2 linked regions of the Homo sapiens genome follow. The protein of the gene in region 1 purifies or fractionates together with the protein of each later gene. This does not show direct contact. Each region holds a gene or a part of one and is shown on either strand. Other genes may lie near its edges. The genes, in order: AKR1D1 and PLXDC2.

Region 1 (3,826 bases):
CCTGGGCAGGATATAGAAAGCCTTGGGGACATATATTGTATTTTTTCCCCCTGCTACAGTTGGAAGTCATCACTATAGAGAAGATAAGAGGATACGAAAAATGAACAAACTGGCTACATAGATGATATTATAAGATTCATAGTCACAAATATCAAATAGCTGGGAAAAGGAGACACACATTTCAGCAACATTAGAAATATTTGTTTGGTTAATTAAATAACAACATGATTAATAGGACTTGGACAGTAATTGAGTCAAAAGGCCAGAAAAAAGCCTGTAAAATGAGATGTTATGAATGACAAGTGTGACAACCAAAGTACAGTGGGAAGGGGAGGTGAGGCGTGGTGTCCAGAAATTTACAGGGAAGAAAATAAACATCTACTTTCATTCTCAAGTATCTACATTATTATCATTATTATTATTAGAGACAGGGTCTCCGTCACCCAGGCTGGAGTGCAATGGCACGATTATGGCTCACTGCAGCCTCGGCTTCCCAGATTCAAGTGATTCTTCCACCTCAGCCTCCCGAGTAAGTGGGACTACAGGCGTGTGCCACCATGCCTGGCATACATTTTTGTAGAGATGGGGTTTTGCCATGTTGCCCATGCTGGTCTCAAACTCTTGGGCTCAAGTGATCCTCCTGCCTTGGCCTCCCTCTACATATTATTAATATATGAAGCTTAATACTAGATGGTAAATAGAATCTCAGAAACATCACTGAGATTTTATGGGCTGGAACTGATCATTTAAATGAAGAGCTAAAGTACACAATGAAGGGAGCCCCAGACAAATGCGTATTAAAGTAGGTGCTTGTATTTTTGAAGATTAACCCAAAAAATGAAGTACAGAGGAGAGCATTTAGGATAAAGAAAGTACAGCTGGGGATGGTGGCTCACACCTGTAATCCCAGCACTTTCGGAGGCCCAGGCGGGGCAGATCACCTGAGGTCAGGAGTTCAAGACCAGCCTGGCCAACATGGTGAAACCCCATTTCTACTAAAAAATACAAAATGTAGCCAGGCGTGGTGGTAGACACCTGTAATCCCAGCTACTTGGGAGGCTGAGGCAGGGGAATCTCTTGAACCTGGGAGGCAGAGGTTGCAGTGAGCTGAGATCATGCCACTGCACTCCAGCCTGAGTGACAGAGCAAGACTCTGTCTCAAAAAAAAAAAAAAAAGGAAAGAAAAGAAAAAGAAAGAAAGTGGCAAAGGCAAGGGCTAAGGTAGGAGTGTAGTCCACCATGGTGCTGTATATTTGGATGATGACTCATTTAATAAGGATTATGGCACAGAAGCAAGTTATAGTAGTGAAAATCTTCAATTATTCAGCTATCACCAGGGAGTCTCTTCTAAAAGCTGGATATTTACTTACTGGATATCTACTATTTACTTATTTATTTATATGTTTATATTTATATACTTGCTGAAAAATATTGTCCCTCAGAAGGCAGAAGCAGCAGTGAGATGTATTACTATTTTGTACTTAATTCTCATCAGTATGGAGGAACTAGTTGGGACTGTGGACATGAGGACCACACTTTGTAATTCTTTTTTTTTTTTTTTTTTTTTTGAGACGGAGTCTCACTCTGTCACCAGGCTGGAGTGCAGTGGCATGATCTCAGCTCACTGCTACCTCTGCCTCCCGGGTTCAAGCGATTCTCCTACCTCAGCCTTCCGAGCAGCTGGGACTGCAGGTGTGTGCCACCAAGCCCAGCTAATTTTTGTATTTTCAGTAGAGACGGGGTTTCACCATGTTGGCCAGGATGGTCTCGATCTCTTGACCTTGTGATCTGCCCGCCTCAGCCTCCCAAAGTGTTGGGATTACAGGCGTGAGCCACTGCACCCGGCCCACACTTTGTAATTCTTAAATGTGGCACAAAAAAATTCTACATAAATTGTGACACATTTTTTAGGAAAACCAGTTTTGAAAAAAATCGGAAAGATCAAATAGGATACCACATAAATGATATGATAGGAGAATCTAAAATATAAAAATTTGATTCCACAATTAAAGACAATCTCACTGAACAGTAAAACAAAAAATCTGGTTTCCTAAAATGGCTGACAGCATCTCCTTCTACTTAAGAAAATTAAAAATGCTGGATTATGCTGGCGCAGTGGCACACACCTGTAATCCCAGCGCTTTGGGAGGCTGAGGTAGGAGGATCGCTTGAGCCCAGGAGTTTGAGAACAGCCTGGGCAACATGGCAAAACCCCATCTCTATAAAAAATACAGAAATTAGCCGGGTCTGGTGACTCGCTTGAGCCTGGGAGGCAGAATTTGCAGGGAGCCGTAATCATGCCACTGCGCTTCAGCCTGGGTGTTGGAGCAAGACCCTGTCTCAAAAAAAGAAAAAAAAAAAAAAAAGCTAGATTAAAACTTTTGAAAAGATTACCATAAAAGTACTGAAAAGACAGTAGGCATTTATTAATTCAAACTACATTTTATGGGAAAGTCTGAATGCAGAAATGAGAGGTGTAGGAGATGAAAAAGGAAAGTAAAAAAACTCCCTAACAGGCTATGGCCACCTCCAGTCCCTGGGAGAATTCATAACCTATGTAGCCGGAGTCTGCTGACCAGTTTCACATCGTCACTGGGTAGCAATGCCTCCAGGGAACCTGGAGCAAACACACACAAATGTTGTCTGAAAGAAAATACTTGTTTTTCACCCTTGATGCTCGCTCACAAATACTTTTTTAAAAGTAGTATTAACCTGCACACAGCTGAAGAATTCAGGTACCCCAGAAAACAAAGTTCCATAAAGGAAGACTGGTAGAAACAACTGAGAGCCTAAACAGAACCATAGATCCTAATATTGGAACTGTCATCAGAGTGAAATTGGACCTGTATCTTACACCATACACAAAAAGTCAACTCAAAATGGATTAAAGATTTTTAAGACCAGAAACTGTAAAGCTCCTAGAAGGAAACATAAGGGAAAAAGCATCATGACATTGGGATAGGTGATGATTTCTTGGATATGACACCAAAAGCATAAGAAACAAAAGCAAAAATAGGTTGTTGGTACTACATCAAGCTAAAAAGCCTCTGCACAGAAAAGGAAACACTCAACAGAGTTAAAAGGCAACTTATGGAATAGAAGAAAATATTTGCAAACCGTATATCTCACAAGGGGTTAATATCCAAGATATAATTAAAAGGAACTTCTACAACTCAATAGCAAAGAAGCAAAAACAAACAAAACAAAACAAAACAAAAAACCCCAAAGAAAAACCTAACCTGATTAAAAAGTTGACAAAGGACTTGAGTAGACATTTCTCCAAAGAAGACATACAAATGGCCAATAGGTATATAAATATCAATATCACTATTCATCTGGGAAATGCAAATCAAAACTACAATGAAATAACACCTCACACCCATTAGGATGACTATTATCAAAAAACTGAAAGGTAACAATTATTGGTGAGGATGTAGAGAAATTAGAACTCTTGTACACTGTTGGTGAAAATGTAAAATGGTGCAGCTACTGTGGAAAACAGTATGGAGGTTCCTAAAAAAATTAAAGATATATTAGAACATGTTGGTCAAGAAAAACAATTAAAAATAGAACTACCATATGATCCAGCAATCCTACTTCAGGGTATATATCCAAAGGAAATAAAATCACTATCTTGAGGAAATATTTGCACTTCCATGTTCACTGTAGCATTATTCACAATAGCTAAGATATGGAAACAACCTAAATGTTCACTGACAGATGAGCAGGTAAAGAAAATGTGGTACATAGACAATGTAATATTATTCAGCCTCAAAAAAGAAGGAAATTCTGCAGTACACAACATGGATGAACCTGGAGAACATTA
Region 2 (3,826 bases), on another chromosome or scaffold:
TTTGCTATATTGACAATCTGCTCTGTTCTGTAATATAGAACATTGGATCAATCTTTATCTTTTTGCTGACTTAAGGAGGCTGCTATTGTTGCAATATCCAGAGATTTCAAGTTCTAGCCATTGCGGGGTCTTTGTGGTGTTTTCAATTTCTCCTCTCTCCACCCCTGCCCCCATCTGTGGCCATCTAAGTTAGCAATACAATTTATTTTGGCCATTTAAAATTTTTCTGCCTTTGTTTTATTTCTTCCCAAATATATTTGAAAATGAATGATCTATATAGCTGATTTTCTGACCACATATATAATTGCAATTTTTATTTGCTCTTCAAACTATTACAACATTTTTGTCCTTATAAGGTTTTTTGGGCAGATAATGCGAGGTCTGTGGTGTTACCTTTTATATACTCCTATTACCTTATGTTTGTGAAGCATTTTACATTTTACAGAGCACTTTGATTCATCTCCCTATTTGTTCATTTATTTAACTGTTCAGTTCACTGAAATATTTATTGAACACCTACTGGAACCAAGTGACTGTGCTAGTAACTTGTGATATACAGTAGTGAGAGTCCAGGCATGTAACCGATCATTATAATACAATAACATCCCTAAACCAGACTTTACAAGTAGATAGGATCAACAATACTCTATCAATTTTCAACTCCAATTTTCTATTCTACTTAAAATGGGAACTAGAAACTGTTTGCCTGAAGAATGTGTCTGAAACATAATATATCACTGCATGTCTGTGCTGTAGACCTGTTAATTTTATCTGTGAGAAAAAAAGTTACTCAAAATTCTCCCTGACCTAAGAATACTTTCTAGTTCACTGCAGTCTTACTGACCAGATGCAACAGTTGAAGTTTGATTTCTCGACCCAATATTTCTATTGGGTTTTGAATTATTAATATCACTGTTTTGAGGTATTCAGAAACACCAGTGTATCAAAAAAGCATTTGCACTTTAGGTGTGTGTGGTGGTTATGTCATTTATTAGACCATCCCAGACATAAGACAATCAGGGAAATCAGAAAACTCCAGCCTCAAATGTGTCTATAATTTCCTGTTCTACCATTGTCATATCATAACATGGTATTACTTCTTAAGGTTTTGATTAAGTTGATCTAGCCTCAACTTAAATTGTAATACATCTGCCTAATTATTGTCTGGAATAACTTTTCAACCATCCAATGCCCACTGCTCTCACAATGATTATTGTAGAGAAGTAAAATGGTAATTATTCAAGTAAAGTCACATAATTTCTGGAGTCAGTTTTTCATAACAAGTTTATGGAATACATCATCATTGGCTTCTTCATAATATATTTATTATGAGTGACCAAATTTTGCCTGGAGGAGCAAAATGCTCAAAACTTGTTATTATAGGTTAATTTCCAGCTCACTGTTGACACTGAAAGATTCTGTGTTACTTTAAACCCAGGATAAAAGGCTGGAAAAAAAATTAAATGTAAGTCATAAACTAGTACTCAGCTTTTCCTAGTTTCTAAGGCTTATTAACATTTGCAAATTACTCAATAAATGTCTTTCATAATGGAATAACATAAAAGCTTTTGATTTGGCAGATAGTGATATTTTATTTATTTTCATTCTGGTTGAAAAAAATCTCAGTGGCTTCTCTTCATTCCACGAGAATTTTGATTTTTAACAGCAGTCTCTCTTTTTCTCAGCATTGCAAATATATATGTATATATACATTCATGACCAAAGTATCGCTTACTGACCATGCAGCTGTAAACCTTCTGTGCCTATCAAACAAATACATAGCATGAAACTAATTTTAGAAGTTTCATGGGGGAATTTTAGGGGAAAGTATAAACCTAAGAGTGAGTGAATGGAGATGATTCATGGAAAAAAAAATAAAAATCTAAATGTGCTATTAGGCAGAGTTATTAACTTCTTTTAGTTGTTGTTTGAGATGGGGTTTTGCTCTTGTTACCCAGGCTGGAGTGCAATGGCGTGATCTCGTCTCACTGCAACCTCCGCCTCCCAGGTTCAAGCGATTCTCCTGCCTCAGCCGCCCAAGTAGCTGGGATTACAGGCATATGCCACTACAGCCGGCTAATTTTGTATTTTTAGTAGAGACGGGGTTTCTCCATGCTGGTCAGGCTGGTCCCCAGCTCCCGACCTCAGGTGATCCGCCCACCTCCGCCTCCCAAAGTGCTGGAATTACAGGCCTGAGCCACCGTGCCTGGCCGAGTTATTAACTTCTTAAGAGCAATGTGCTAATAAATACTCATTGATGACCAGCTCAAATTTAGGTCATTCAGACATCCAGACACTGGGGCACATATTCTGCAAGCAATGCTGAGACCCCTGACATAGAGAAAGCAAAGGATATGCCTATGATTAGTCTAAAATGCAGCCATCACCCCCCATACCTCTTCTATGGCATTCATCCTAACATCATGGAGGCCTTTGTCCTAGAGAATTATGTGACTTGCCCTAGAGAATTAGTGAATGACCAAAAAGAGACTTTCCATTTATCTTCCTTTGACTTAAAAGGCATGAAAATAAGGCAAAAAAATCAATAAAATAATTTTCCTGAGGAAAGGTTAAGAGATGGCACTTTCCTTTCCGGGCCCAGAGCTGGATTTCTCTGAGATTTGACCATCTCAGGACTCAGACAGACTCCAGTGCTATTTTCTGGACATTTGTGGTGAAGCCTCAGCCACCATGTTCAAGGTGGTTTGAATGAAAACATACTCAGATTGTCACATTTATAGCAGGGAAATAAAAACTCAAATTAGGCATCCTGCAGCAGGCTACTCTGAAAATAACATTAGGCAACATCAGAGCTTCACTTGCAAAGAAATGTTAAAATCATTTTAGGGAAATCAGTGAAGTCTCTTTAGAAACAGACATCTTGTGTATGGCGTAACCCAGTCTTGGGGCCCTCACGGAGAAGAGGGGGAAGTCTTTTCATTGATTGGTCAAAACAAATCTCTCATTTGCCTGATTTGAAGCATTTCAACAGTGCCTGGAGAGTACATTATTTTCAGGGGAAAAAAAGGAGAGAGTCTTTTTTATATGCCAGCTGGGATCATGGGAACTTCGAATGCCAGGAATTTACTACTGTTTCTGGTAATTCTGTGTGTAGTCATTTGAAATGTTGAAGTGTGAAAAGAGAAGAAATTGGGCACTTCTTGCGGCGGGGGAGGGGGGGGGGGCGGTGGCTTTCCAGATTTTATGCCAGTTGCACCAGCATGCAGAATATTTGTAATGCATTTCAAAGTGGATATAATGGCACCCTTTGTCAGAATCACAAAGCTCACTGCGGCACTGCTACAAGAGGACACTGAGGAAAATCTGGCCCTATGAACCTAGTCAACCCCAAGCAAAAAGAATGACTATGTGTGTGAGTGCAGCACATGGCCAGTTCGTTTCTCACTGTTTTGGAAAGCCCTGTGTGCCAAACCAAGGACGTGTCTTTCAGGGAAAGGTTAATTTTCCGAAGTTTATTAAAATAGAACTTGGAAAACCAAGCATTTTGAATTTATTCCAGTCCTCTGGGCATCATTCCTATTTCTTCTGCCATGTCAAGGAGAAATTCCAAGCCTGCATTCTGTCATGCTAAAATAACCAGCCCATACTTCTCGGTGACCTTCTGTTGAACGTACCTGAGCCTGCAAATGTAAAAATGATTGTATCTGAATCTGCACTAATGGTGTCTGAGAGCAAAAAGAGTGTGACCTCTATTGGAAACCTTTGTTCAAATTCAATAATTCAGAGATGCTACATACTTCTGCAAGCTTCCTGATTATGTTCACTGTAATATTAATGACCTAAGTTTGAATGTATTTCCTTACAG

Evidence for each region.
Region 2: the proteins of AKR1D1 (region 1) and PLXDC2 purify together in Homo sapiens (affinity purification with mass spectrometry; 2 studies listed by BioGRID and IntAct, with this or other methods). This does not show direct contact.

Annotation. Positions count from the first base shown.
Region 1 is NC_000007.14:138,082,797-138,086,622, reverse strand, and holds part of AKR1D1 (aldo-keto reductase family 1 member D1), read right to left. Parts: intron 1-3,826.
Region 2 is NC_000010.11:20,284,812-20,288,637, forward strand, and holds part of PLXDC2 (plexin domain-containing protein 2 isoform 1 precursor), read left to right. Parts: 3' UTR 1-3,826. UniProt on the Homo sapiens protein: May play a role in tumor angiogenesis.